3 separate regions of the Homo sapiens genome follow, and all the other regions are linked to region 1. The links come from fine-mapping of genetic effects on gene expression. A gene starts in region 1. Each other region holds a variant in brackets. All regions are shown on one strand. Distances are from middle to middle. Region 1 holds the start of KCNN2 (potassium calcium-activated channel subfamily N member 2). Region 2 has its middle 43 kb from the start of KCNN2. Region 3 overlaps LOC124901047 (a long non-coding RNA gene).

Region 1 (10,583 bases):
TTAGCTTTACTGATAGATATAGAAAACAAGTTCAATATCACCTGAAAAAGTCTAACATCTCCTTAGCTAAAAATTACTCCTACTAAATCTGATGTTTTATAAGTATTACGACCAAAATGTGATTTCATTTTTGGTAGTGAGGTATAAAAGTAATTAGTAAAATGAACAAAATTGTTGCCTGGTGCACTGAGCTGTCTGTGGTACTGAAAAATGACACCAAAGCTGAAATCTACTGAGCTGGTATCTTACAAAGCCTCCCCATCATACTGTTTTAATACAAGCACTTCCATCCATGACTCACCTGAACCATCTTGTTTTGCCAGAGTGTGTATAAACATTTTATAAAAGGTCACACGGATCTGCTTTCCAAGGTTCTCCATGAAAATGTCAGGGCCTCCTCTTGCTTCATTAAGCAATTCCAGAGGACATAGAGCCAGAAAGTCAGCTATAACACTTACTTTTCCTGAATGCAGTGAGAAATCATATCATGCACCAGAAATCTGCACTGGCGAGCTTTTACTATCTGATTATCATACTGATATGCTAAAAAGAAAAAGCTAAACTGTCCTTTTAGATTATATGCTACATCCAAGGACACGCTATGAATGGCAGCATAACCTTGCATTTAGTTTCTTAACTCAAAGCTAATTGATATATTTGGAATTATTTAGCGTGAGCTGAGAAGTGCTCATTAGCTTAAAACTTTTTATGAAAAAACATATATACCCACAGCAGTGACATCAATAAGTAAAAAAGGAGGGCGGGGGGCAATTCATCATTTTCCATGCATATACATAAGCCTGAGCAGTTGGTTTCATTGTGTTTCAGAATAAGGTATTTGACAGCCCTGCTGACGCTCTTCTCTGGACAAATTAGAACATCTTTACCTTTTTCTGGTTCTTGACTTCCAGTTCAGGGTCTTCACATTTGTTTGGCCCTTCTCCATTTTATTTATTTATTTTTTAATAAAAGCATCTCAGATAAGAATTTGGAGCTTCAGCTTAAAGGAGAAATCCCTCTAGATAATACACCGAGTAAAAAAGCTACATCCAAATTAATTAAATGACATGACCCAAGCATCTATTTTGAAATTATCTTAAGTATAGTGGGTTTAACAGAAACCACATATCATATAAAATAAACCGAATTTTAAAACATATATCATTCTATAACGTTTATGTTGACCAACAGTAAGGAAGTTCACTGTGCATATTTGCCGTGGAGAGTCATTCCATGTCATTTTTCTCACCCATGCAATACATACCCTAATCAAAATATATGTGCATATGCATAATTGAAATGGTCCTCAAAATTAGCCAATGAGTGGAATGCTTTCAAGCATTAATCTATAAAAATATGATTTTTTATAAACTTCTGTAAATTTTAAGCGTTCTAATATGACATCAATTTTTTCAAATAGTTAACATTTGGTAGCTCTTAGACTCCTATGAATTACTTCAAAAAATCTCCCAATAATTCTTAAAGAGTCAATGTTTTCAAGACACTTTGTTTTTGATGTTAATACCAGCAAATGTCCTCCCCCATGAATGTTTCTTTAGCTGTGTGATTTTCACAAGGAACAGGCAATAACACAAAGCTGATATTTAATAAAACCCAGCAAGATCTCTCATTTCAGAATCATTAAGCAAAACGACTCTGTCCTCCAAACAAAACATTTTTCAAGTTAACTTGATTTTTAAAAATATGTAAGAACATTTTGGAATGATCTTTTAAGTTTAACTGAATTTATATACCAAACTTTTGGATTTAGAGGGAAACTGCAGAAAAAGAAATATTCACGTTTCACAGTTTTTGGCATGTAGCAGCAGCTCGCAGAGGAAGCATTATGGCCTGGAAGCTAGGATAGGGCTGGTTCTCACTGTGCACTGTCTAGCTGTGTGGCCCGGCAAGCTACCTCTGCTGATTTCAGATTCCTTATCTGTAAACTGAGTCAAAGGACCATTAAACCTATTTTGTTCCTTCCAGCTCTAATTGTCTACTCTTCAAGTCAAAATGAAAAGATAAATTTCTAATGTTTAAGTTATATTTTAGTATCACTTTAAAATGTTCAAAATAATCTCAAAAGCCCAACCATCACTAGTATTGAATTAAAGATGAATCTATGTAAACTGTTAAAACTTTAAAAAATTCAAATGTGTGTTCATCTCATTTTGTCAGTGCAGTTTTGTAATTTATTTCTGAGTAGTCTCACTCTTTCTAATTATCATTCTCCAACCTCATCCCTTCAAAAACACATTTTTCAAAGTTTTACAAGTATAAAGGCAACGTGAAGTAATTTCTCCCTCTGCACTTGGAGTAATGTGCATCACTATTTTGTCTGGGCATCATTAAAAACGATTTCTTCCATATTTACTTTGTGTTTGCTAATTACTAATTTAAAATTAATTTAATTTAAATTAATACTAAATTACTTCAAAGGCAAATCCTATATAAGATTTTAAATTGAAAGGCAGCTTAAATCTGAGGCAGTCTAAAGGAAGATGGCCTAAATTAAGGGTCTCAAAGTACCACCAAATGTCTAACAACTGCTCAAAAAAGAAAAAAAAAAACTCAGAAAATACATAGTGCAAATTCTCATGCACCAGGACCACAGGACTGAGCCACCGCGCCTCCCACACAGTGCAAATTCTAAGCTGAAAAAAGTCCCAATCTAATTTTTGAAAACTCTATACTTATTTTAATTTAAAAGCCTTAATATTCCTGTGTAGGCTAACAACTGACAAGATGACCCGTAAGTTTTATAGAGCATTCTGATATGGATACTAACAGTCAAATATAGAGCTCCTGGCTGCATTTAAACAAAAGAAATATTTTCAAAAAAAAAAAAAAGAACTCACAAGGACAGTGGCCTTAACTCTTAAATTACATTTTAAAAAATACTTCATGACTGGATACACAGAATTTGCATTCTAAACTTACAACAGTTTTTTTTAATGGTGGGGGATTTAGGAAGGGGTTAGATCTTTTCCCATATCTCATTTATATAAATTAGCTGGCAACTCATCACCCAGTTTTCTTCTCTATGCTAAATTACAGAAGATTATATAGATAGATACAATCTCCCATAATGACGCACCCACTAGGAAGAGGTGTCTCAAACAAGAACACAAGTTCATTCCAGATTAAAACTAGAGCATAACTGGCCTTAAGGAACAAAATGTGACTGATCTGGAGAAAAGGATCCACCTACTGAAGAGAAGTAAAAATCTTAAGGGTCCAACAAATACACCTCAGAAAATGCTGCATGTTTATATGCTACCCTGCCTTGTGTTGTTTTCCACTTCCTGAAAGAACAGGTCAGGTGCTAACGGTAACAATACAGCATGTGTCTTCTGTAACCTCAAGCAAGGACATGATGGCTTGAAAAAAGCCTCTGCTGCCTTGCGTTTCTCTAGGCTGACTGTAGGGCTTTGGGTCATTCATAAACAGCAGGACCTAAGTTACCTGTATTTCCCTGGCGTGGTACACGATGATCAGACCGAGCAGGATGATCGTGGAGAGACTGATAAGGCATTTCAGAGCTAAGGAATACAGCGACGCCTGCAACACAGTCAGACAGAAGCACTTTTAAGAAAGAAGCACTTTTAACCGCCTTCCACGTCCCCAGAGTCAGTCAGTCCCCCACAGGTGGACCTGAACTCACAGAAGGAAGATAAGGGGAGAGGGGTGCACCTGTCTTGGCTCTGTGATCTGTCAGATCACTCGGCCTCAAAACCAAAAGAGACGAGAGTAGACCTGGAAAGACTGGGAAGACGCGTGGCTGGGCTGCTGGGTCCACGCCATAGAGGACCGAAGCGAGCGCCGCTGTTCCAGGCTAGCAAAACCAGAGGAACTTACTTCTGAGTTCAAGAGAGCGGGTTGAAAGGGCCCTTCTAAACATAATTCACGAGGGGATGAATTACAGATGGTTTCCCCACCGACTTCCAGAACCACTTACTTAAGGTGCCCGAATGCGCTGAGCACTCTTAACTGCCTCGAGAACTTTGGCTGCACGCGGAAAGGGTTCATCTCCGAGTTGTTTAGCTGACTACGGATGCGCGTCCTAGACGCGCCCGCTGTCCTGGCGGGCTCCCTTGATCGTCCCGGAGAGGCTAGGGATCCGCACGCAAAGGGTCCCCGCCAGTGCCCATCCCAACCACCCAGTGCCCGACTCCGGTAGCGTGGGCTGGGGTTCAAGCCTGTACCTTGTCGTAGGCGCCCCACGACAGCTCGGTCTCGATGACCATGACCACGATGCCGAACATGCCGAAGATGAGCGCGTAGTCGCTGAGCCGCTTGCGCTTTTCGAACAGGGCGCGCCGGTGGCCCAGCTTGTAGCCGATGTTCTGGTTTTTCTTTTTGCTGGACTTGGTGCCACTGCTGCTGCCGTGCCCGCTCCCGCCACCGCCGCCGCCTCCTCCAGTGCTGCCTCCGCCGCCGGTTCCATAGAGCGCCAGGTTGTTGGAGTTGTTGTGCTCGGGCTTAGACACCACGATCTCGGGGGCTGAGGACGAAACAGCGGCGGCGGCGGCAGCGGCTGCAGACGGGGAGGACGCGCCGCCACCTCCTCCGACAGACGCGGGGGGCTGCAGGGGCTGCGCCTCTGAGTCCATCTCGTGCAGGTTCCGGCGGGACGCGCTCAAGTTGCTGAGCGGCCGCATGACGCCCCCGTTGTACCTGCAGCTGCTCATGGCTATTTCGGTGAAGGGGTTGCTCTCGCGGCGCGCCTGGGGCTGGTGGTGCTGGTGGTGCGCCGGGTGCGGGTGGTGGTGGTGGTGCGAGAGCGGGGGCCCGGAGCCCAGACTGCCGAGGCTGCCCGTGGGGCTGGCGGCGGGCTGCAGGCTGTGGCACTGGTGGTACTGGGAGGCGGACGCCGACTGCTGCGCGGACTGCTGCGCGTACTGCTGCCGGAGCGCACTGGCATGGCTGGACGGCGTCAGCTCGCTCACATTGAGCTGGCTGCCCCGGCGCGACGAGCAGCAGCAGCAGCAGCAGGACGAGCCCGACAGCGGCGAGGAGGTGCGGGTCCGGAAGGCGCCGCCGGGCGAGGAGGTGCGGAGCAGCAGGGACAGGTTATCTCCCGCCCCCGCCGCCGGGGCACCGGAGGAGGCGCAGCTGTTGCACCGGAGGCATGGGCTGCTGCCGCCGCTGGCCGGCTGCTGGTGCGCGAGGTGCGGGTGGTGGTGAGGGTGCGGGAGGGGCGCGAAGGGCGGGCACGGCTTGTCCTGGCTCTGTTGCTGCTGCTGGCAATGCAGGTGTGAGGAGCGCGGCGGCGGCGGCGGCTGCTCTGGGAAGAAGCCGCGCTGGAACTGCAATGGGGTTTCCATGTCAGGGCTGTTAAAGCTGCAGGGAGACCAAGCGGTGGTGCACCCTGCGCAATGCGTTATGGTCGGGAGCGGGGACTCCTGCTGCTGGTGCGAGGAAGGGCCCATGCCGGCTCCGGTAGAATCCAGGCGGCGAGTCCGATTGGTTGGGCGCACCAAAACAATGGGCATGACATCACCTGCGGGGACCGAGACTGAGTTTGCGGCGCGCGCGGCTTAGGGAAGCGTGTGTGGCAGAGAAAGATGGGGAGGGGAATCTGCAGGACAAACCCTAGGGGGGTGCAGTCCAGAGCCAGGGCGCTCCAGGGCAGGGATTCCGCCTGCTGATTGCGTGGAGATGGAGAGCCCCCACGCAGTGCAGCTGGGCTGCAGGGGGAGGAGAAAAGAGAAAGGCGCCCCTCCCTCCCGTGCCGCTGCCCCCTTGACTAGTGCCGGACGCGCTGCCCGGATCACCTGCGCCAGCCACTGCAGCACGTCGGGCCACCTTGGCCGGGGGCAGGCTCAGGGACGGTGTGGAACCCCGACCACTTCTCCGACTGCACGCCTCGCAGGGCTGCAAAACAGCAGCCCCCTCGTCCCACGCCCGCTTCTCCCAGATCATCCCGCCGAGAGTGGGCTGCCGGCTGCCCGCCAAGTAACTGCGGGGGCACTGGCTTTGGGGAGAAAAAGTTTGGCGACCGGCTGCGCCAGTGCAGCAGCGTGTGGGGAGAATCCCGGGGCCTGAGCCCTGCCTTGGCCGCTGCGGGATCATAGCCGACCCCGAGACCGGATCTTTCCCAGCCGGCAGGCTCTGGAATCTGGATTGGGTGCGCGGCGCTCTAGCCCAAGTGCGCTGCGGCGCGGGTAGGGTTAACCGCCTCGGCACCCCGGCCGGGGGTGGGTGGGGGCGGGGCCGGAGGAGGGGATCCCCGCAGTCTGCCGACAGAGCCGGCCGGGCTTCCCGGGTCCCCCCTGGCGGGGGCGGAGGGCTTTCCCCGCTACCGCCAGCTCACATTTGCGCCTTCTCCAGAACATGAGGGGATGGCGCCCCCGGCCGCCGGGTCCTGGGCTCTGGCGCTCAGGCCCTCCGGCAGCCCGAATCCGGAGGTCCCAGGGCTTCCTTGCCGGTGGAGAGGCAGGCGGCTCGCTCAAAGGTGTGGGGGCTGCTCAGCCACCGCCGGCCTCCAGCTGCTCTTCTGCTTCTCTTCCTCCTCCTCACCTGCAGCGCAGACACAAAGCAAAGACCGGTCACAAATACGCAAATATCGAGCATCTTTGCCAAGTCCTAACTGCAGCGGCGGGTGGGAAAGGGGCCTGGCGCGGGCTGATTCACCCCGGTAGTCGCAGCCTGGCAGGGAAATTAAGAATGATAGCTTGGGCTGAATAGTCGCTGCCCACGGACAGTGCTGGAGTTTTGTTGGAGTTCGGTATCATTATTTATTTATTTACTCTCTAATAAACTAACAAAAATTGCATTTGGTGTCTCACAAATTCCCTGTGCTGTCTTCTTCTAAGAGATGTACCAACACAATGCACTAGGTGATCCTTATGTTCTTTGTTTCTGCTCCATCTTAAGTCTTTACATTTGCATTTCTTTGTGAATTCAAATTCCCGTCTCCCCCTAAAGAAGGTGAAAGAAATTGGCCCGTTGAATATTTGTTTCCATTTTAAATTATTTTAAAGCCTGCTTTTCATGATAAAGACTATTACAACGAGTTAGACCTAGCAATTAGAGTGAAAGCGGATCACCCTCATTAGGTCATTAGGTAATTGGAATTCTCAGCTGGATCCAATTTCTTGATATTCTACTCGGCAGCTGCCCTAAAGTTGCTTACCTGGTATCTGCTTTTCAGAGTGTGCGTGTGTGCGCTTTCAATGCCATGGAATGAATAATTCATTTTATGATGTTCTTTGGACACATGTTAATTTTAATTTTTTGTGTGTGCAAATAAACATTCAGCAGAAAAAAAGGGGTGGGGGGTGCACAGCTGCTTTTAGTCCCGTAGCCCTGGACTTGAGCTAATTAATACTGTCCGGAATTGAATTTCTCAATGGTCTTGGTCAAGAATATAATTTAGTGGCTAACAATCAGAGACAGCATTTTGTTTTTATCATCTATTACTATTTTTGTTCTGTATCTTCAAAATAGCAATTCAATAAAACTTCTTTAGAATCACGAAGCTAATTGAGTCTTCGGGGCAGCTGAGTAGATACTGCATAAATTGTGTGGAAAGCATGAGTATTCAAAACAATCCTGCGAAGTAATTTGAATTAAAATGAAAGTTTCCCTATGAAAAGTTACTAACCTGGTCTGAAAAAGAAATTCAACTCATGCGGAAAATCCATCAAACATGTATTAGGACGCTTTTCAACAAATTATGTAGCTTTCCAGTTGCTATACGTAGCGATTGAGTGAAAATGTTTGATTCATCCTTACAAATCTAAATACTTCAAAGGAACATTATGGTAAATTAATAAATATTTTTATTAGCCGTTCATAAATTTAGATAAAAGATTACATAGCCTCCACCCCTGAAATATCATAATAGTTGTTGCCAGCATTAAATTAGATATAAGGTTCTACAGTTACTAAACTGTCATAAGAAAAATAATGGCTGCATCCCTTGTGTCAAACTGACTTTGTCAAATAGCAAATTCACGGCTTCAACAGAGGCTCCAAAACCAAAATAATAGGCAAAAATGTATCTTTTGCCATGTATATCTCTATGCTGTAATATGGGATTAGTTGCAGTGCTATTAATCATGTAGAAATCATGTAGAAATAATCATCTCAGAAATTGCCTACTGAGATTTATGGCAATGTTGCATGGAGTTCTCACTTCTCTTCAAGGGGGTACACAGGAGGATAGAATGCACAAAATTCAGAAGAAAATGGAAATTTGATTCACAACATGAGGGACTGTCGGAACACCAAAACTCAGACTAATACTACTTCCGGCTAGCACTATTTTGAAAAAGCTCATAAAATAATTTAATAATGTAAAACTCACTGTGATTGGACAGAGAGCAAATCAATCAGACATTTATCGGCTTTCTGTTAAGAAATCAACTGATTACACACACTCAGCCGTCTTGCTAATAAATATCTGTATATTGAGAGTGTGGTAAACCTGTATTACTATGATGATGAAAAAACACAAGATAATTTTGTTTCATTTTTAGTCTGAATCATAACTTCATTATTTAAGGCATTTTACACTATTAGGTTATAACAGGCACATTTAAGAAGTTCTTATTTTCATCATTCCTCTTTTAATAAAGTCAACAAATTTTAAGTTTATATGTAGACATTTAAAATGTGCATAACATGATTTCTTTTTTTTCTACACAGGACTGTAGAGATACATGTAACATGTAAAGTTAAATGAAGCAACAAAGGCAATATTCTTCCACGTGGATAGTAGTTTGCACATAGTAGATACTTATTTATATTTGTGAGTACAGAGAGAAGGAGAGAGGAAGGAAATGAAGAAACATTGGGGGAAAAAAAAAGACGCAGATCAAGGGCTATGACTTCCAGTGATAAGCTTTCAGAAAATTAAATTTCCTTCTTTTTGTTCCATTAAAGCATATAAGTGAGAGAATTTCCCTAGATTAACACCAGAGGTCATACTCAGCCACAAAATGTATTTCAAATCTAATCAATTAAATCTATTTCCAGCATCACTTTTTAATAAAAATTGCCTATTTTTTTCTTATGGCCTACAACAATTGCTTTCCCATGTTTGTTGAATTTCAAGCTTGTGAACACGCACACAAACACCCATCCCACACACAAACACATTTTCTTAGAAGCATGTCTTTTTTCAGACCACAGGAGCTTGGGAAAAAAACTTCATCTCCTTCGCCCACTTTTTGATGGGGTTGTTTGTTTTTTTCTTGTAAATTTGTTTGAGTTCATTGTAGATTCTGGATATTAGCCCTTTGTCAGATGAGTAGGTTGCGAAAATTTTCTCCCATTTCGTAGGTTGCCTGTTCACTCTGATGGTAGTTTCTTTTGCTGTGCAGAAGCTCTTTAGTCATGTGTTTTTTGGCTGCATAAAGGAAGACATTTATGCAGCCAAAAAACACATGAAAAAATGCTCATCATCACTGGCCATCAGAGAAATGCAAATCAAAACCACAATGAGATACCATCTCACACCAGTTAGAATGGTGATCATTAAAAAGTCAGGAAACAACAGGTGCTGGAGAGGATGTGGAGAAATAGGAACACTTTTACACTGTTGGTGGGACTGTAAACTAGTTCAACCATTGTGGAAGTCAGTGTGGCGATTCCTCAGGGATCTAGAACTGGAAACACCATTTGACCCAGCCACCCCATTACTGGGTATATACCCAAAGGACTATAAATCATGCTGCTATAAAGACACATGCACACGTATGTTTATTGCGGCATTATTCACAATAGCAAAGACTTGGAACCAACCCAAATGTCCAACAATGATAGACTGGATTAAGAAAATGTGGCACATATACACCATGGAATACTATGCAGCCATAAAAAATGATGAGTTCATGTCCTTTGTAGGGACATGGATGAAATTGGAAATCATCATTCTCAGTAAACTATCGCAAGAACAAAAAACCAAACACCGCATATTCTCACTCATAGGTGGGAACTGAACAATGAGATCACATGGACACAGGAAGGGGAATATCACACTCTGGGGACTGTTGTGGGGTGGGGGGAGGGGGGAGGGATAGCATCGGGAGATATACCTAATGCTAGATGACGAGTTAGTGGGTGCAGCGCACCAGCATGGCACATGTATACATATGTAACTAAGCTGCACAATGTGCACATGTACCCTAAAAGTTAAAGTATAATTAAAAAAAAAAAAAAATTTCATGTTGTTTGCACTCCAATCCCTTATTTTATTCAAATTTCTATTATGCCATTGTTCATAATTCTCTTCTTTATAGTATTGTCTATGCTATGTCTTTTTGTTGTACCTTAAAAAGCAGGGTTCTCTTGACTTTGGGTGTTTTTGGTATATTTCCAAATTCAATCAGACCAGGGGTCCCTGGCATCTGTTTCCCATATTGGGGTGGTCTGAAGGAAAATTTTGACCTACAAAGTAAATGTTTTTCTGAGAATTATTTTTTTCTTTGCCTGGGTGAGTCAACTACAATATTTGGTGGTGCCAAACGCAGAGGTTGTGATGAGACACCGCCACTCTGAACTTACTGTCCTTAGCAATAAATGCCAGTGGGGAATCAGGATAGTATCATTTATTTCCTTAGCACAGTAATAAT
Region 2 (10,583 bases), 43 kb after region 1:
GATTCCCTTCTTTCATCTTCAAAGCCTGCAAGATGACATCATTTTTTCCCTTCTTCCATAGTCACATCTGCTTTTGACTCTGACCATGGCCAATAAGGTTCTCTATTTTTAAGGATGTGTGTAATTAAATTAGGCCTACCCATGTAATTTAGGATAAGCCCCATATCTCAAGGTTCTTAATTTTAATCATATCTGCAAAGACCTTTATTTCATATAAAGTAACATACTCACATGTTCTCGTGATTAGGACAAGGGGGAGCCCATTATTCTGCTTACCACAATACTATTTAATTTATATTTCATAGGTGTTGGTACAACGTATGAAGAATACATCCTAATAAAAGTTATTCTTTAATGAAGATGACAAAAAAATGGTCAAATTAACAATTATTTTGATGTATTGCTTTTTAGCTCATACTCTGTGAATACCTGTTAGTCTGTTAGATTCTAGGAAGATTTGGTTTATAATTATAGTAATAACATTTAATATTTTATAGGACCTTATAGAACACAATGTGCTTTCAGATATCACTGTTTCACATATTAAAATATTTGACAGGCTGGGTGCAGTGGCTCCCAGCACTTTGGGAGGCCAAGGCGGGCATATCATGAGGTCAAGAGATTAAGACCATCCTGGCCAACATGGTGAAACCCCATCTCTACTAAAACTACAAAAATTAGCTGGGCATGGTGGCACATGCCTGTAGTCCCAGCTACTCGGGAGGCTGAAGAATCTCTTGAACCGGGCAGACGGAGGTTGCAGTGAGCTGAGATCAGGCCGTGCATTCCAGGCTGGCAACAGAGAGAGATTCCATCCCGACCAGCAAAAAAAAAAAAAAAAAATTGATATGTTTATATCATGATACTTATTCTCTATACTAAACATGGTTTCTGTCATGTTTTCCAAAGAGAAAAGAACAAATCATACCATATCTTACAGATGTGAATTTTTATTAAATTAATGCAATTTATACTGTACATGAAAAAATAAACATTTTTCTCATTACTTTTTTAGTTTTATTATCTTTAAAGATTTAAGAGCTTAAGTGGCTGAACTTGAAATGTCAACTCATGATAAGTGCAGTATTTGGTGCTTATGATGGTACCAAAATGAAATGAGTACACTCTTATTATTTCTAATTTATAGATGAGAAAACACTGGCACAGAGACATCAAGCAACTTTATTGAAGTTTCACAGCTGGGTAGTAACTAACACAGGTTTAAACTCCGGAAATGTGACTCCAGAGACGATGCTCTTAACCACTGTGCTTTGCAGTTTCCTACTGAGGAGCTTTACTGTTTATGGTAGCTTTGAAATTAGGTACCTGTAATGTAAACCGGGGTTCCTCTTTTTCCAGGAGGAGCATGGATTCACTTAAAAGAAGCATAGGCATTTTATTTTTAGCAAACTAATGCAGAAACAGAAAACCAAATACTGCATGCTCTCACTTATTAGCAGGAGCTAAATGATAAGCACTTATGAACACAAAGAAGGAAACAAAAGACACTGGAGTCTACTTGACGGGGAGAGTGGGAAGAGGACAGGAGCAGAAAAGATAACTATTGGGTATTGGGCTTAATACCTGGGTGATGAAATAATCTGTACAATACCTTCTGTGACATGAGTTTACCTATGTAACACACCTTTACATGTACCCTCAAACCTATAATAAAAGTTAAAAAAGAAGCATTTTATGTTTTAAAATATATTACCATCAAAATGTAAAGTTATACTTAGCATCTCAAATAAATAACAAGGGAGAGACTGTACAAGATCACAAAGGTTCATTGAGATCAGTTTCTGTCGCTTTCAAACCTTTCACATGCTTAGCTGCAGCATCAATTAAAATACTCTGTTACTCAGCTGTCCTGGAATCAAGTGTGTATGTGTGTGTGTGTGTGTGTGTGTGTGTGTATGGGGGAGTGTATGCATATGTGCACATGTATGCATGCAGTGTGTCCTGAAGTTCAATGAAAAGAGTACTTGGAATGAACATATTTTATTTATAATCTTTGAACTGTAATTAGTGTTTTCACATAAAATAAACAGATATGACTATATGAGATTTGGGTCTCCATCAGGTTCTGAAAATTTACCTTCTAAGTAGACTTCAGAGAATACATTAAGAAAAATCCTAGTTTTTAGTCAAAGATCATTACAAACAATTACAAGCCTTTCTTTCTCTACTTACTAGACATTATTTGTCTTCCAATAAATGAAATGGTTGGTCTAGAAGAATTTTAATGTCTCTTTAAGCCCCAACATTCTGTCATTTTCTGGTTGAGGAACTTACTACAGTAGATTCTACAAATAAACTAATTTTGAAATACACCCAAGAAATGGAAAATTTAAACTGGTGTCTTCATGTTATTTGCAGCTTAATTGTGAGTTTTATTGTAACAGAATATTGGAGAGAACTTCCAGTTGTCTTAGAATGTTATTGAAAACTTCTAAGCTGAGGAAACTGGGTAATAAATTCTACCACATTCTGAAGACAGAAGCTAAATACATCTTCACAGCTTCTGTGAAATATCCAGTGACGGCCAGGTGTGGTGACTCATACTTATAATCCCAGCACTTTGGGAGGCCGAGGCAGGCAGATCACCTGAGGTCACCAACATGGTGAAACCCCGTCTCTACTAAAAATATAAAAATTAGCCGGGCATGGTGGCACGTGCCTGTAATCCCAGCTACTCAGGAGGCTGAGGCAGGAGAATCACTTGAGCCCAGGAGGCAGAGGATGCAGTGAGCTGAGATCATGCCATTGCACTCCAGCCTGGGGGACAGAACAAAGACCCCCTCTCAAAACAAACAAACAAACAACAACAAAAAAAAAAAACAAATCCAGTGAACATTATACCTGAGAACTGATGTAAGAGATGGCAAGAGGTCCATTACAAAGAGGAAACAATGAAGGATTTTTCATGGTTGAGAACATTGGAATTTACCCTTCCTTCCCTGTGCTTTCATTTCCTGCCACCAAGTCAAGTGAGGGGGCTCCAAGAGAGCTACTTATAGACAAAAGAGTTGTATTCCAGATGAGGAGATCTGTATATCCTTCAACCCCCAACCTGCACCACAGTTCCTGAGCTTTTAGAAACATGTAGACCTGCCCCATGCTGCTACCAGAAGATGAAGGGCACTAAAGAGTTCTTAGCAGAGCTTGGGAGTCTTGGAGTTTGGGGGCACACATGAACACAAGACTCCTTATATAGAGAAGATTAAGGTGAAAAATTGAGTAGAACAAACCCTCAATATAAGGTAAGGAGAGAGAAGAACAATGGGGGTAAATTGTACTTCTATGGTTTGGAAAAGCAAGACTTCCCCAGCAATCAACTCAATGCTAAGAAGGTACCTGGGTTCAAAGGCATCCTAAAAGGACCTCTCTATGCAAAGACGTGGGAAACAATTGTAGAATTGAGTGAAATGGCTAATGTGTAAGCTACTTTTCTTTCTACCCACAGGGACAGCAGGAGCATGGGAGGATTCTAAGGGCTCAGCTGGAGCCTTTCGCATTCCATCAGAGATCTGTGCAATGTGGGGACATCAGAGATCTGTGGATGGGGTATTTCCTCTTGAACCTCATGAAAAAGCTAACATTTCAATGATTTCCATGACAGGATACTTGACAGTTAAAAGAACTGAAAAAGATAGCATCAACTAAAAACAAACAAACAAACAACACTATTCTTTTACCTGTCACTATCTCTATCCTTATGCTTTCTCTGGAATGAATGGAGAAGAAGATACATGAAGGATGGAGAGGAACAAACCATGCACCCTACCCCTCCAAACCTGCTTGTGGGATCACTAGTTGGGCCAGATCTGGTGGAGAGGGAGGGGCTTGGGATTGGATGAACATTTTTTTTTTTTTTTTGAGACAGAGTCTCGCTGTGTCACCCAGGCTGGAGTGCAGTGGCGCGATCTCGGCTCACTGCCAGCTCCACCTCCCGGGTTCACGCCATTCTCCTGCCTCAGCCTCCCGAGTAGCTAGGACTACAGGTACCCACCATCAGGCCTGGCTAATTTTTTGTATTTTTTAGTAGAGACGGTGTTTCACCATGTTAGCCAGGATGGTCTTGATCTCCTGACCTCATGATCCGCCCGCCTCAGCCTCCCAAAGTGCTGGGATTACAGGCGTGAGGCACAGCACCCGGCCTGGATGAATGTTTTCTTTAAATTGGACTAAAATTTTTTTTTAACCCTCACTAATCTAATACCCTGTAGAACCAAAAAAAGGTCTGGGACATGGCTGTGATAACATCCAGACCCAAGGAAGGACAGGGTATGTTGATTTTACTCTATGAAATTCACCCATTTAATACATCAGTTATATGACTGTACTCGAATCTTTTCCTGTTTTATGATTACTCATTCATGTTTGGGGATATGAAGAAGGGGATCTGTTTCTATTTATGTGTTAAAATTTCCATTTTAAAAAAAGATGGTGGAGTAACAATGGGTAAACATTTTGTCCACAATTCCCATGAGCTTCAAGGAAGTGAAACAGACAACTGAAAATAGAAGTCTTTCTCAGAGCTCTGTATCAAAGGAAACACTGGATTCCTTCCTTTGACTAACAACCAGGAAGAAAATGGAGAGTTTCTGTAAGCAGATTATATGAGTCACAATTAGCACATAAAAATATTATAGAATGAGACAGCATGTGATGGGACAAAGCATCTTTGATTTGAACTTACCTTAATAAAAGAGAAAAATTTGACATTTTGGCATAATAATGAAACATTATCAAGCATTATATCTTACAGTGTTTGATTTAGAAGCGAGGAGCAATTGTGTTATATTACATTCAGATTAACCTGGATGTGCAACTTAAGTCAGACTTTTGCCTGAATATATAAAGATTTATTTATAATAACCATGGCAAAGGAGTAGAGATTTACATATAAAACAATGATTTTCTAGTAGCAACTCACCTCAGCTTTAAATATATTTATGGGCATAAAACCATCCTCCTTTATCACTCTGAGCTTCAGGCTGTATTCTAAATTGCTATATATGACAGAGTTCATTTCTATGATGAATTTCCACTGTGCTGAGGCAAACAGCCAACTGATGACAGAAAGGCAGTACCAAAGGCTGGGTATGAACTGCACGGAGATATACCTGTGTAGCTTCTGCTTTCTCTGTCTTCATAGGGCTCTTCAGGGAAACAGCTCATCCCCTTAAGAAGCCTCCCTGCAGGGAGATTCAGGGTAGACACAGCAATGGAGAGGGCTGGAAGAACCTCAGTGTGCAGATAAGACCAGTGGTGGGAAACTGACTGTAAGAAGGGGCCAGTGGACTTAGCTGCTTTCCCGCTCAGAATATGAAGGCCATCCTTAATCTATTTTGTCTCCCCTATTCTTGGTAATCACTCAGTCTCTGGGTGGGAATGAGTATATTCCTGAATATACCCCTTAGCCTCAGGATTTATACAGAGGTCTGTGTACGTTGGGGGCACAGAAGAAAGAAGAATGAATGATAAAATCGCAGAGTGGCATGGCTGATGTCTCACTCAGTATCTTTGAGCCTCAGTTTACCCACAGTTCAATCACCACTCTCCAATGTCTTTTTCAGCTGTAATACT[G/T]AAATAGTTCAGTGAGAATAATTAAAAGGAACACAATCAAAATATGAACATAATACATGCTTATATAGGAAACAAGATTTCCCAGAAGCATAATCCAAGGATTATGGAAGAACATTTATGAAGGAAGAGAATCTAAACTGTAACTATGATTTATACCCACAGTGTATAAATTTAGTCAGTGAACCCTGAGTAAATCTAGATTACAGAAAGAATGTAATTACAGTGCCTGCCAGCCTGTGAACAATAATATGGTATAATAAATTATACATAATAATTATATATGAATTATCATATACAATTATGTATTCTTATATAATACAAAATTACATTATGATATTATCATTGTTATGATAAGTGTATGATTATATATAGTGGTATAATATAGTACAATATAGCTACAGTTCATACATTATCAGAAGTTTCAACTTTTTCAGATCTGGGGTTATAAATACATACCTTAAACAAGATATATACTCTATTAATACGTATGTAAGTGGCCATCCTTCAGATTTTACTAGGAAAAAAATATTTTTGATGAGAACATCAAACAAACAACAATGAGTGGTAATAAGGATTTGACAATGGTAATAAGGATTTGATAATATTCCAAAATAAAGTATGGGTAAAATCTGAAGGTAGGGCACTTAGAGAACCTGTCTTTAAACTGTATTGCCTTTTCCTTAAAACACAGCATTATCCTGCCTAAGCAAAAAGGAAACTAAACTAATAAGCATCTCCAGAAAGTAGAAATATAATGAGTCCAACTGAAGAGCAGACAGGAGATGAGTAGGACAGTGTCAGGTAAAGAGCAGACAATCAGTATAGTGCAGAGATGGAACAAAAAAACACAGGGAATGTGAATGGACTTATCCTTCTAGTACACCATAATAAACATCCACGTGTACTGTTGATCTGTTGCTTTCGTTTGCTCATTATCCCTGCCCCCTCCCAGTCCCTTATCTCTTATCTCTTCAGTGCTTTACAACTCATTTCATAGTCATACTTGTGCTGCCGTGAAGATGGGCAGGCACGTTGCCTGCGGCAGGCAGTCGCTAAGAAACATGCCCATTTTGCTAAATATGTGAGTATTGTAGAATTTAGCATAATGGCTAATGTGTAAGCTACTTTTATTTCTACTGGTATTTCATCTCTTTGCTCTGAATTGTCACCTGAGTTCTCCTGTGACATAGGATCTACTTCCAAAATTCCTCCTCACTCTAAGACTTTCTGTAGCACATAACTCATGGAGGTGCAGGACTCTTCAGAATGGTCAACACCACCATGAGAAAGCTACAGCCAAAAACAGAGGAGGGAATGGGATCAGAAAGTCCCCCAAAAAATGTAAGTCAGAAAGAGGTTAATTTCCAGATAAAACAGATTTGAGATCAACAAGTATAGTCTAAGAAAGAATGGATGATTTTTGCTATCATTGCACACTTTAAACAATGAATAATATAATTGGCATGAGCGATTTCAGATATTTTGATTAAGAAGCTGGGATCTCTGAAGTCAAAGTTACCTTGTGAGGGGTTGCCTAAACTAAAAGTGAATTAGAAAAGGCAAGCCAACAAGACACTGCAGGTCCGACGATATAAGCTTTGTAAAAAAGTGTATTTCCTTAAGATAGGCTTGAGACATTACAAAGCTGGCTTCCTGAAAAAAAAAAAAATTGGATCAATAAGCTTCCAAATCTCTATAGTCCAGACAAGGCTCTATTTTCTTTTTATTTTTCCAAGATCTCAAGGGGCCATGGCTCAAAAGCAGAAAGTTATAGTAATAGCATAGGGCCAGTAGAAGTTCACTAGGAAGAGAGATGAAGGAATTGAAGGAAGTGAAAAAAAAATCTGGGAAAAAGCTGCAAGGATGTCACTCTGCTGAAAAGCCCCTTCTGGAAAGCACTTGCTGATCTCAAAGGGCCTTAGCATGAGCTCAAGGTTTGGAATTTATTCCATAATCATTTACCAAATGACTGCAGTTTTCAAAGAACACCCTGGACTGTTCCTTTCCTTGCCTTTTTCTTGTGCATGTGGACTCAGGTATGACTGACTATACTTATATTCACAGATGAGTACAGATGGCCAGACCTGAGTCCATACACACACATATATGCCTTAATATTATAACTGCATTAGAGCGTGTTTTAAATCATGGCTGGACTAGATAGCGATATGTATTAATGATTTAGAGATATGGTTTTGTAATATGACTGATTGGGTTACATTTTTCATATGCATTTATTTTGGGGACCATGTTAACAGCTTTTCATACACCATTATTCCTGAGAACTCTGGGTTTCTGAATCCAGAATAACACAGGATCAAAGTGAAACTATTATTCAGCAATTCCTACTGCTGGAAAAGTACCCAACAATTGTGTATCTGCGGGTCTGCTTCTCCCCAGCTGGGCAATGTTGAGTACAATACCTAACTTCTTTGAGCCTACACGTTGGTATCTGTAAATCAAGGGCGTTAAGCTAGTCTAGCGGTTTCAAAATCTTGTTTTCTGAAGTCTTAAGTTTCCTCAGATGTATCTTAGCTACAAGCTCAGGGGCCAGGAGGGGGCTCCAGTGACCTTTGATTCTAAGAGAATAGTTTTGCTTCTATTTGTCTTATATTTTGGGACTCTGTACAGGATGTCATGGGAAAAATTATTACTAAAAATAAATTTATAACAATCCACACCTATTAATTTTATAAGGTACCATGCTGCATCTCCTATAAGTCAGAAGAGCTCCTGGCAATTTAATTTAGGGGCTCCTGATAGATGGAAGATATGCTAAAACAGGTTACAACACACACACTATATGCGTGTGTGATGAATATCTTTCAGTGCTGTGTTTCTTATTGCTGCATGAGTAAACTTATTTCAAGATAGTCTCTCAATTTGAGGTTCCTTGGTAAATACAAGGCCCAGACCAAATGGTTTTTTTTGCCTCCTTCCAACTCCCATCCTCAGGACAATATCTGATTCCTAACAGCTTCCCTACTCTATATCTCAGCATATCTTAGGTAACTCTGCTTCTAGGATTTGAATGTTCCAATAAGGTCACTCCACAGAAAGGCTTCTCTATCAAGGACCCAGAGAACTCCAAAGTGCTTTTTATCTGTTTCTATTACATATTTCTTGATATAACCTTTAAAAAGTATGTTAACAGGGTTACTCTATTTCAATAAACACATCATTTCAATAAGCAAAATATTTGACTAACCCAAATCCAACAAATCCAACAAAATAAAGAAATCTGGATAGTTCTCTGAATTTTCTGTAATGGGAGATGACAACTATGCCTATATGTAATCAATGTTAGTGATTTTGTGAAATGTGAAAATATAGTAAATTTATTTTAAAACCACTAAAATAAGTAATAAAATATGAACATGAATCACAAATAATAAGAATAGTCCACTTTTAAAACAGAAGTTTTATATATATATACACACACACACACACACACACACACACACACACACACACACACAGTTTCTGCCTTCCATGGGTGGTACACTCTAAACCTGCTTATTTTAGTGTGTTCCATGCTAGGCATTACACTTGTCTCTTTGGTATCTCTATAAAATAAATACGAGCCCTATATTTGCCCAGATATATCCAAAGAACCCAAACTATTAAGTACCTGTAACTGGTGAGAATGTTGCTTGAATTAATTGAATTCACCAGGTATAATAGTTTATGAGAAACATAACCCACAACACAACATACAAGGCCACAGAAGAACAGAAGAATGGAAGGTGCTCAAGTCTTCCTGGGACAAGGATGGTTGAGAGCAGTGAAGCACAGATTCTGGTTCCTGTTTGCTCCCAATATAAGAAACCTAGGTTGGAGTCACCATTACCATCAGATCCTGTTGATTTAGTAGCCTATGAATCAAGCTCAGCTGTGGATGAGGAGGCAGCAATCAAACCTCTGTGTTCTTGTTAGAGGAACTAGCCTCAGTGACATGCTCAAATATACTGGTTTTAGTTCATTTTGGCATTTGTGGATTTAACCCTCATGTTTAGAGGGTCCTCAAGAGCACCTTAAGGTCCATGCCATGTAGCAATTTATTGTTTTGTAAATGAATTAGTTTGAATCTTATGCTTCAAAGTGTAATGTGCAAGAAGGAGTCACTTGGCAAGTGAGTGGGCCTGGGTTATCTCTAAACAACTACACTTCAGGCTGGCTATTATTATTCTACACTTTGGCTGCCTGTACAATAACTTTTTGGTGGTAAAATTTATATTCTTTCTGAAAAGAAAATCTTCTGCTAGTTCAGTGAGGAAAATGAAGGGAAAATAACATAAGTAAAAGGCATGCTTCTCAGCCAGAAAGTAAAAAATTTTTAAAGTGAAAAGTTATATGAGAAATGGCAAAAATATAGAGAGGATTAAAAAGATCAGAGGTTGCCAGGGTTTAAGGGTGGGGAAAAGAGGAATAGGTAAAACATGGGACATTTTTAGGGTAGAAAAACTGTATGACACTGCAATGGTAAATATATGACATTACATATTTGTTAAAAGCCATAGAACAGTGCAACACAAAGAGAGAACCCTAACACACAATATGGACTTTAGTTAACAAAAGTGCATCAATATCAGTTCATCAATTGAAACAAATGTTCCACACCAGTGCAAGGTGTTAATAGCGAAACTATGCAGGGGGGAAGTGATATATAGGAACTCTGTGTGTATTTTCTGCTCAACTTTTTAGTAACCTAAAATTGCTCTAAAAATAAAGTCTATTAATTTTATTGAAAAGTTGTTAGGAGGCGGCTCCCACCTCATTTTGTTCATGTCCTATACAACATGAACAGCTACACAAAAACTGTAGAAACAAGAAAAGTGATCCACGAAATCATTTTAGTGAGTGCTACTCCCTGTGCCAAAGCTGTTGATCAAACCGAAAAAGAAACGTTCATCGAAGTTGATTAAGTAGTTATTTGGTTTTGTCAATAACAACAAAAAAACACTGTTTAACTAAAAAGTGATTTTAGAAGA
Region 3 (10,583 bases), 490 kb after region 1:
ATGTTTATTGAGATCTTTCTGCACTATCATAAACTTAGTAAAATTCTGTTTTAGAATTTAAAGTAAAAATGACTCTGATCTCAAATAGGAGTACACACAGATTGCATGTAGAATTTGAGAGTGTTGTGATTTCATTACAAGATTCATTTATAAATATAAGACTATTTTCTTAAGAATAAAAATGAATGAAAATTGGCATTCTGAATATTAGCCTTAAATCTATCTCATGGAGAGATTGCCAAAAACAATGATGGCCACACTATATTTAAAATTTTAGGGGTAAAGAGTAATATTAGTTCCAGAAAAACTAAAGACAGTTCATTGTTCTAGCAAGACTCTTCTGAAAAAAATAAATAAATAAAGGGTCATGAAAAAGGGGCCTAATTCTTTGAAACTGAGGGCAGTTACATTTCCCATTAAGAAAACTCACCAAAGATATAATACACATAGTTTATACTGTCTGAGCAGTGAAAAAAAAAAATTCTTACTGAGTTTCTGAACTTAAAAATAAGAAAATTTTGTGCACACAGCCCCAGGTCTGGAAGACAGCCTTGACATTTCTCTTCACTTTGTAAGTCCTGGGAGAAGAAACCAGTAAGGAGATGGAAGGAACAAAGCAGAGGTCTCCATGCCCATCACCCAATACATCTAGGAGGAAGTGAAATTGTGAGCTTATGCCCCCGACACATGCTATAGGCACTGGGAAACATCTGGGGAGAAAAAGTCCAGAGGTTGTCCAAGATGTATCTGTTTATTCATTTAGCAACGTTTATTGCGAACTTTCTGCATGAAAAGCACCACCATGCTAGGCAAGACAGGAGATGTAAGATATTTCAAATGATGACTCTACTTTCTATAATTTTCTCACCTGGCAACCTGGCATAAAACAAAAGTATGATAAAACAGCAAGTATCATAAGTTCCACATAAGTGACACACATAAAGAGTTTAAAACATTTAGTGCAAAGAGAAAGAAAAAAAAAGCCTGGCCATGTTTATGTTTAAAGAAATAAAGAAAGCACAAATTTATGACAAGTACTCCACAATCCCAGCTCAGAAATTCCCAGAAGAAAGTCAAGTTTTCTCAAAGATTTAGTTAGAGAGAGAGAGAGCGCGCGCAATGGCCCCGCATCCTTATACCTCCGTTTTTATTTTTAGCACAAACAGCATTCTTATGCTTGGGAGCCACAAGACCTAGCCATTCTGCATCTTCCTGTGGGCATCTACAGTATGTAGGTGACTTGTCAAGAGAGCAGCTCCCTGGTCTGCTTCAGGGACTCATCACAACTGGCCATCTGAGAAATGCCATTGTCATTTTTAGGTTGGCAAGTGCCTTCCCTTCTCATGCTGCTCATGTGGTGACAACATTCAAATAATCTAATTTCAGTAAAACGTGGAGCTACTAGAGCAGTTTTAAATAGGAATTCACTACCGATTTGCTGTGCTTTGCTTTTTCCTGGATGTTATAGCCCCTGCCCTGACCTCTGTGACTTGGGAAAATGAATATCATTTCTCCCCCTTAATCATCACACAGTCTCCAAATAAAAATAGTGGCTCCTCAGAGGAGACAACATGCAATTAGATGTCTGCAGTTTTGCATATTCTGAGCAAGCAATTTAAAATGTCAAATAGTGAGCAGTTTCTTTGTGCTTCATAAAAAGACTCCCCCGATTCCCCCAGACAACCCATTTGCAGAATTGCTAGTAAATCAACATAATTTGTTTTCCCTGAGACTATGTTTTGCCAGGGAAACCTCCTTCAAAACTGCTGAAGCTGCTGCAATTATATAAAATTATCGCATCTCACAATAAGGAACTTCCCTATAATTGGTCATGCAAGTGAGGAACAATAATACATATATAATTTAGACACAGAAGACTAACCTTGAAAAGCAGCCTATTGTTCCCAAGTTAGTTTAATTTCATCAGTGTTCCTTTTGCTTTATAAAACCCCTGAATTTTACAATTCAGAAGATATTCGTTATCCCAGGGACACACACTTTGCTTCGGTGAATTCAAATATTTAGTACATAGTGCATGTCCAATATTTGAATGCAATTACACCATCATTGTGAAGTCTGTGGCTGCAGAAAGAAGAATAATTAGCCCCATTTTTAAACAATTAACAGGCAGACTTCATTCAAAAGCTTTAACAGAGAGCCAACAAGCAAGTACTAATATCTAATTCTACATACCTGGGCACCACCAAAGAAAATGGATCAGAGCCCGAGGCACAGACATTTGTGAAGCGCTTTCCCTAAAAGAGAGCTGCCCAAAGAAAACAGCAGACTCACCCTCATGCTCTGTTGGTATACACATATGGATCTAACCTTGGTCAAAGAATGCATCTAAGATTTAAAAAGACAGTTAATTCTAGTGGCAAAAAGATTATGAAAGCCAGGAAAGCTGAGCAAAAAGCAGTGTTTTCACTGACCACTGGTATGATCACTGCCACATCAATTTGCTTCTTTAAAACCCCATTTTCTTAATACCAAGTGAAGTATTTGAGTTACCTGAGCTCTATGTGATTCTTTTACTATAAAATATTATTAATCTACCTATGATGAATGCTTGCTATTGCACAAAGGGTTGCTATGGAGTTATGGCAAGAGTATGGTCTTGAGATTGACAGGTCTGGGGTTGACTCCAGTTTTAAGGTATTAGCTTTGTAAATCTATACAAAGTACTAGTTTGTTCTCAGAGCCAGAGCTCCTTCAACTACAAAACAGATTTGGGAGAAAATTAAATGTTTACCTAGTGTCAGTTAGCATTTTAAAACTTAGCTTATTCCTCAGAATAATTAAAGCAACTCTAGGTAAAGTTGTGAAGTAAGTGGAGGCTGCCTAGAGTCCGTCCTTCCTGCATTTTTTATTTTTCTTTAAACTTACACTCCTGCCTTCCTGCTGTTTCCTCCTTCTAAACATGAGAATCAAGCCACACTAAGATGAAGGAGATACAATGTATTATCAGTATTTATATGCAACAGTAGCACAGAGGCTAAGAGTCAGTATCTAGAGTCAGACAGATCTGAGTTCAAATCCCGACTCCTTACTTTACATGCAATCCTGGGCAAGTTAATTAATTTCTCCAAGACTCAATTTCTCTGATTATAAAATGAAGATAAATAAATCTACCTATATAGAGTTGATATAAAAACTAAATAACATGGTCATGACACACTTAGTATTAAATTAGGTACAAGTGAGTGTCTAATAAACAATGGTGCTGATTATTATTTATTCCCTCACCCTGCCAATGGCTCAAATTAGCTTGTAAATAAATAAAAACCTTCTATCTTTACACAGCAACTTAAGTCACACTTCCCCTTCTCTGCCTAACTGATCTGTAAAAATCTATTACAGGCTTTGTATTTTACCTTTTTCAATCTTATCATGTTCTTTTGACCCTACACTTACTTTCCTTTCTCTCTTCCAGCTTTCTGCTGAGGAAAAGGCAACTCCTCTGGTCCTGCCTGCCTAGGATTCTACCTTCACATTTCCAGCATCACTAGTTCCTTCTCATTTATTCCTCCATCCATGCAGTCATGCAACAACCTTTGGAGGAGTACCTTCTATTTATCAGTCTTTGTTAGGAGCTAGGAATACAAAACTAGCACATACTGACTTTAAGCAGGTAACTGCAGAACAGATAGACATTAAAGAGGCAACATTAACAGGACTTCAGGATTGATGGATGTTGCAGATTGGGAGTGAAGTTCACTCCCTTTAACCTCTCCCCAAGTTCTGCTAGAAATTCTTTCTATGAATTTGCTTCTGTCTGCATATTCTCCTCTGCTAAGTACCACTATAAGGTAAATTATGCAATATTGAGAATATCAATGTAAAGGGGATAGACTTTATTTAAACCCTGGGAGTTCACACACACACATATATTTTCTTAGAGACAAATTTTCCACTATCTGAAATTGGCAGCAACAGACTCTGGGAAAGGAAAGTTCAAGTACTTTGACCATGCATATGCTTAATAATTTTGTTTGGGACCTTAGAAGCCTGTAAGAATGACTTATCATCTCAAAATTATAAGGTCATTTTAAAGGCCAGAGCCCTATTGATGAAAAATACGAAACAAAGAACTTGAATGTGCTTCAACTTTGCAAAGAAAATTGTTTGCCATTGTGCAAAGAAAGCACATGCTATGCATTGAGTCAAGTCAACAAGTGCCTAAACTTAAATTACTCTGCAAAAATAATGTGAAAAGTTTATTGGTTCTCATAAAAGTGGTGAGGAAAAGGGTTGGGGCCCTGACTCAGGAAAGTGGAAATGAGAAAGGGGATTCTGGGAAGATCAATGACCTCCAGCAATATGGTGGCAGGCCAGAGTCAAGAAGGAAAGAGTCAGTAGGAGGCCCATATGTTGTGCATGTATAGACTTCAGAAGCAATGTTTATAACCAGGTTTGTTTTCTTTTTCTGCAGTGTAAGTCACCTGTCCCTCTCCTCCTTGCTGCACTAAAACTTACTAAAGTCTGCTTAAAATACTTTGTGTCCATTGAGTGGGTAACATTTAAAGGAAGGTCTGTATCCATACATAGCATGAAGGGCAGCAGGGAAGCAGCTCAATAACATGGAGGTGGTTTCTGGAGGCAGCCAAAGAAACGGCAAGCGGAGCCCCATTCAGCACAGTCGTTCAAAGGGAGGTGCAACCAGCAAAGCACGAAGACATGTGAGCATTCCCTGGGATCTTCAGAAATCATTGAAACAGGAGTAGATTTCCCAGGCTTACATGAGCTGCAGGCTCAAATTACTGTTATTTGCATAGTAAAGGGAAGTGGTCACTCAAAAGTGCTTGAAAAGTTGAAGATATTAAGGAGGGTAGGTATATTAGCAGGGTATACTAGGGAGGTTCTTACAGAAGGAAATATGTTGGTTTTTAAGATAAGGTCCTAATACAATTCAGTGTATCTTTAACTAACTTCACTAAATAGGACACAAGTAAAGCCTCAAAAGCAGCCAAATCCCAGACCTCCCAAAGGTTTTAGAGTAGACCAGGAAGTCCTTCTGGTTCTTTAAACATCATAAGGGCATGGCTGAGGAAT[A/G]CTATGAGGAAAAGGTGGGGAACACTCAGCTGCCCTTTTCAGGGGCCTCACTGGCTTATTTCTCTTATCAGCGAGGTCCCTGAAAGATGTGTGATGGCTTCCCATTCCCAGAAAACCCCATTAAGAATGACAGAATCCCAAATGACTGCCAACTCTTTTGCTACGTATGTTGTAAGATAGGAAATCTCCCACTTCTCTTCATAACCTTCTACAGCTTTTTAATCATTTACATTCAAAAGGCTCTTATTATCAAATCATTGATCTCTTACAGAAATTCTAGCCCAATTCTTTCCCTTTGGCCCTCCATGATATGAAGAGCCACTAGTCAGCATTATCTCTGTACCTCCTTATAGTCCTGACTAAAAGATTATGGGGTGCTCCTTCTCATTTTCTCTCACAGGCTAGACAGCATCATTAATTTTCCCTCACAGAACCATTTCTCTAAATCATCCCCTGGATAATTTCTATAGCTCTAGCCTCTCTGGTTTTCTGTACTTTCTAATTTTGAATAAAAAGCAAACTGGAAATAATTGTTTAGCACCAATGAAAACATACTAAGAAGATACACAGTTCCACTTTTATATCACAGTTGTTCCAATGGCATACTGATCTTTAAACTTTAAAAAAAAATGTTGTTCACCAAATTCAACTTTGAAAACCTATATCAGTTGTACCAGTCTGCTGTGTGCTGAAACAGTTAAATTTCCATTCTGTTAGTCAGTGTTCTGCTCTATAGAAAACTTTTTAAAACATTTAGTTTGTTTTTTTTTTTTTAACAAAATCCAGTTGTTAGAGAAGTTACTCAGAGCAATTAAACCAAACACAGCTGAAAGTTAACTTCAAAGTCGATAACAGAGTTGTCTACCAAAGCTACTCTTGTTCTGTTCAGGTCATTGAAAACCTTCATGGGCCTGATCTAATGACATTTTCTGCCCTCATCTTACTTGATGCCTCATCAAACTTCACCAAAAAAATCTTTATTCGAAGCATAAGGGAAGACCCTTCTCCAGCATGACCTTACACTCTTTGGGTTTTCCTTTTCCCTCTCTAGTTATTTCTCCCAATCTTTTGCTCACTTCTCCAACTCTTCCTAACCTCTCCCTCTTTTTCTCAGGATCTGTGGTGAGCTGTCTTTTCTTCTACTTGAGGCACTCCCAGTCCCTTCTATGGTTTCAATTACTATCTATAAATCAAGGAGTTACAATGTATCATTCCAGTCCAGGCTTTTATTTGAAGCTCCATAAAATATATCTAACTCACTCATCAACATCTCCATTTAGATATCGAACAAGCAACCCCAGTTCTTGCTCTAAGACTAAATACATGATTGCTCACTCCCCCACTGCTCACCCCTACGCTGAACAAACCTACTTGTTGTGCTTCCTATTTCCTAGCTCAGGAGTTGCTCTTCCAGGAAAAATCGTGTTATCAATACCCTGATTCCTACACCCTCCATATCCAATCCCTCCCTTGTCTGTTAGTTCTATTTCCTAAATTATTCAAACACATCTATTTCTCTCCACTTTCATTGTTCCTTTGTTTATCCCAGCTGCCATCACCTCTCTCCTGGATTTCCAAAAACCTCCTAACTGGTCTCCCAGACCTATTTATATCTTCTCCAATAAATTCTTCACTTTATAGTCAGAGTAATCATTTAAAACACAAAGGGCTCAATGTCATGCCCTTGCTTAAAATTTCTAAGTGAATTTCTATACATTTAGTATAGACAACCAAAAATCTTTAACATTCCCTGCCTGACCTGGTCCTGAACAATCTGGCTTCTGCCCATATTCTAACCTGAGTTTTCCCCACCCATTAAGCCACACTGGTCATCTTGCAATCCCTCAAATGTGCCAGTCTCTCTCCCCTCACAGTCTCCCCATGCAGTTCCCTCTGCCTGAAATGCTTTTCCACATGTTCCTTAGTCAGCTAGCCTCACTCTTACTTAATGTCTTAGCTTAAAATAAATACCTCTTTCTCAGAGAAGTAGCTCCTGATCCCTGCACTGGATGTGGGCTAGACAGTGGTGCCACCCCATGTCTCCTCCACATTTTTCCAGCCTCTCTTGCTGAAGGATAGGGCTTTGTGACTAGCTGTGCTCTGCTGCCTGGCAGCGATGACATCACCCTTATCTGAAGTAGTGACAACTAGGTGGGAATTCTCCATGGTCTCTCTCTTGTTCTTGTGGCTGAAAGCAAATGATTTTATGATTATGATGGTGGAGTTGTAAGACTATAGCGTGAATGAGAAATCAACCCTTGTTGCATTAAGTCACTGAAACTTCGGGATTTGTACTTTTCACCAGAACACAATTTAGTTCATCTTGACTAATTGCCTGTCAGATGCCCTTTGCTATTCAACCTCCTGTCCCCTTGTACTATTATATCCTTGGCACCTACCACAGTGTTGGACATCTAGCACTCAAAAAATATTTGTTGAAAAAGTAAATAAATGGGTAAAATACCACAGTGTACAAATTTACAATAATATCATTTCAAAAAGATAAAAAAGATTTCAGACAACAAAGTAAACTTCTTTGATATGATTCTTAGAAGACTATGGATTTGGCTGGGTGTGGTGGCTCACGCCTGTAATTCCAGCACTCTGGGAGGCTGAGATGGGTGGATCACAAGGTCAGGAGATCGAGACCATCCTGGCTAACATGGTGAAACCCCGTCTCTACTAAAAATACAAAAAAAATTAGCCAGGCGTGGTGGCAGGTGCCTGTAGTCCCAGCTACTCAGGAGGCTGAGGCAGAAGAATGGCATGAACCCGGGAGGCAGAGCTTACAGTGAGCCAAGATCGCGTCACTGCACTCCAGCCTGGGCGACTAAGCGAGACTCCGTCTCAAATAAATAAATAAATAAATAAATAAATAAATAAATAAATAAGACTATGGATTTAATTATTATTATTATCTATATACTAAAAAAAACCAACTCTCTATATACAGTTAGCAAATAGTGATTAAATCCATGGAGTGGAGAGCAAAATCTACAAGTTAAATTGAGGAACAAATAGGTCCAAGGACAAAGCCCTGAGAATAAGCAGCCATTAAGAAGTGAGCAGAGAAACGGGAACTTGCAGAAGAAATGGGAATAGGAAGAGAGAGGAATAAAGGAAGCAAGAAAGGGGGAGGCCAAAGGAAGAAAGTATGTTGAGAACCAGGGAATTGGTTCCGCACCAGAGAGAATGTGTGACTGTTTTCTATGATGATTTACAAGTGTCTTCACAAATACTGATCCCTACCTGGACTGTTCTTTACACATCTATACATCTCTCTTCTTCAATCTTCCACAGAACTCCTATTTGTCTTTGAAGACACACCTGAAAATTTGCTTCCTCTGAAGAAGGTTAGGACTTCCTGCTATATATTCAGTAGCACTCTGATCTTTTCTTCAAAGAACCATCAGAATTGCAGAACGTTAGAAATATGACCTGCAATATGACCTTAGCCACTTTATTTCTCTTCCTAGGGAAGAGAGGATGAAATACAAAAAAAGTAAGAAGTTAAAATTCACTGGAGGATTCCCTTTTTAGAAGTTAGAGAAGGAGGGCATCACAGGAATGACTTTTTTATGTCATCTTTGCACAGAGACCTGGCTGGATTAATACAATGCTGAGAGAGATTCTATGGGTAAGAAAGAAACCTATTAGCTTTATTTTTCAACTACAGACACAAAAATATAAAAGACTTTGAATCAAAGAAATTATCTTTTTAAATATTTTACTTATTAAGTTATTATCTCAATAAAGTATATCTTAAAAATAAAATATTTTTTAAACAATAAAAATCTTTTTGAGGCTTGAAGATGGTACAAAGTATAAATAATTGTATCATAGAATTTAGTTTTTATAAAGTTGTTATATTTCTTTTCTCTAATTTGGTCTTGAGGTTTCTCTTACAAGAAACTTGATTATACTGGCAGACACCCTGAGGCTGTTATTTGATCTGTGTCTAGTTTACTTCTACTAAGATAGCCATCCTCTAGGAGAGCCCTGACGGGGAAAGAAGTTGGGTTTGGTGTGTCAGTCAGCTGAGACACAGAAGAAGCAATTCAACAAAACACATGAAATAGCGGGAGCAGTTTATTACTTACAGATCCCAGAGAGAAGAGCCAGCAGGAAGTGGAAGCTATCTGGGACATGCACACTCCACCAGTGGGTGGACAGTCAGAGAGACAGAGTAAGAGAAGTCTGTGGACCAAAGTCTTTATTGAGGTTCAGAGTGCTACCCAAGCAGGTTTCCCAAGGGGAGCACTAATTGGTGGGTTTAAAGCAAGCAGGCACAAGTTCTGTGAGGTCTCGCTGTGTCTCAGAGATGCCCACTGTGGCATACCTGCACAGTCCATGTGCGTTACAGGGGTTAGTGGAGCGAGTCAAGTAGGTTGCAGCTAGCTGTCCCATGGAGGGTGGTCACAAGGAGGCAGTTGTCTAAAACAGACATCTGGAGAAACTGGGAGAAGGTGGTGAAATGGAAACTGTCAAAAGTCACTAGGCCCTGCTTCTGGTATGAAGTTCAACTTATATTCAAAATGGATGCCGATGCAATATAAAATTATAAGAATTTACTACAAAAGTGTCACTCTAAAAATATCTCAGTTTGTTTAAAGTTTGGTTTGTTTGAACTTTAGAGGTTTTATTTTTGAAAGAATTATTTCTAAGTGTGAGGATACAGAGAAGCCACCTCCACTACATTTAGGAGGCCACCCACTAAATCTTAGGGTGGGCAGAGCCTGGCTGTGCACCTACATTATCAGGGCTCCATCCAGCCCTCTGGAGTAGCATCAGAAAATTGCAGAAGCAGCTTCCTGAAAGACAAAATCTGAAAAATTAAGATGACAAAATGATAGCTAATGTCATAGTCAGGACTTGGAAAACACAATTAAGAGAATTACTATGAGGAAAAATGTGGCAAGTATAAGCCACATCAGACTGAAAGGATACCACATCAAAGGCTGCCATGCCCACATTAACCACCCACATAGAGTGCCACAACTTCAAGAAAGCAGGGGATTTTTGCACCCTTGATGTCTATGAGCAAATAGCATGGGCAGCTCTCCTGCCTCAGCACCATAAGAATATTCTGGAGGAAACAGCCTGTGCACACAGAATATTTGCAATTTAAGGAAAAAAATGTCCAGGCTATGATACCCACCAGGAGAAGATGGAAAGAACAATGAGACTAAGAGTGAAGAGACCTGGCTTTGGCAGTAGAGTGGCCACTAGCTTCCTGGGTGACTGTGGACAATACACTTCTGCTCACCAGGTCTTGGTTTCCCTCGGTACATGAAAAGAGCCTTTAAAAAAGACCAGCTATTCCAAAACTGTGCCATCAGAGCTCTAGCCCAAGAGTTCAAGAGTTCTTGGAGGCTTCCATATTCCCCTTCCCCTTCATTCCACAGACACTTCATCCAGAGCAGCTGCACCTTCATGTGTGAAGACCTGAAGCTTGAGGTGAGATTTCATTTGAACAAAGGGTTTTCGCATAACAATAATGTTAACTGTTTTTTCTTCAAAAAGGTTGACTT

What was found. PIP is the estimated chance that this variant, and not a neighbour inherited with it, causes the effect.
Region 2: its variant is the best candidate, but not a certain one, in a credible set for the expression of KCNN2 in lung (TOPMed, PIP 0.59).
Region 3: its variant is the best candidate, but not a certain one, in a credible set for the expression of KCNN2 in lung (TOPMed, PIP 0.55).

The regions. Positions count from the first base shown.
Region 1 is chr5:114,356,884-114,367,466 of GRCh38, reverse strand. It overlaps KCNN2 (potassium calcium-activated channel subfamily N member 2), which reads right to left and starts at 5,397. Exons shown (of 8, transcript NM_021614.4): 1 at 4,206-5,397; 2 at 3,466-3,561. The coding sequence starts at 5,327. RefSeq lists a silencer at 6,120-6,329 and an enhancer at 6,368-7,284.
Region 2 is chr5:114,313,910-114,324,492 of GRCh38, reverse strand. It overlaps a transcript of KCNN2 not described here. Among named protein-coding and RNA genes, the nearest start is that of KCNN2, 43 kb to the left of the region's middle. The variant G/T (reference allele first, on the strand shown) is at 5,593.
Region 3 is chr5:113,866,386-113,876,968 of GRCh38, reverse strand. All of the region lies in intron 1 of LOC124901047 (a long non-coding RNA gene), which reads right to left. Among named protein-coding and RNA genes, the nearest start is that of YTHDC2, 360 kb to the right of the region's middle. The variant A/G (reference allele first, on the strand shown) is at 5,053.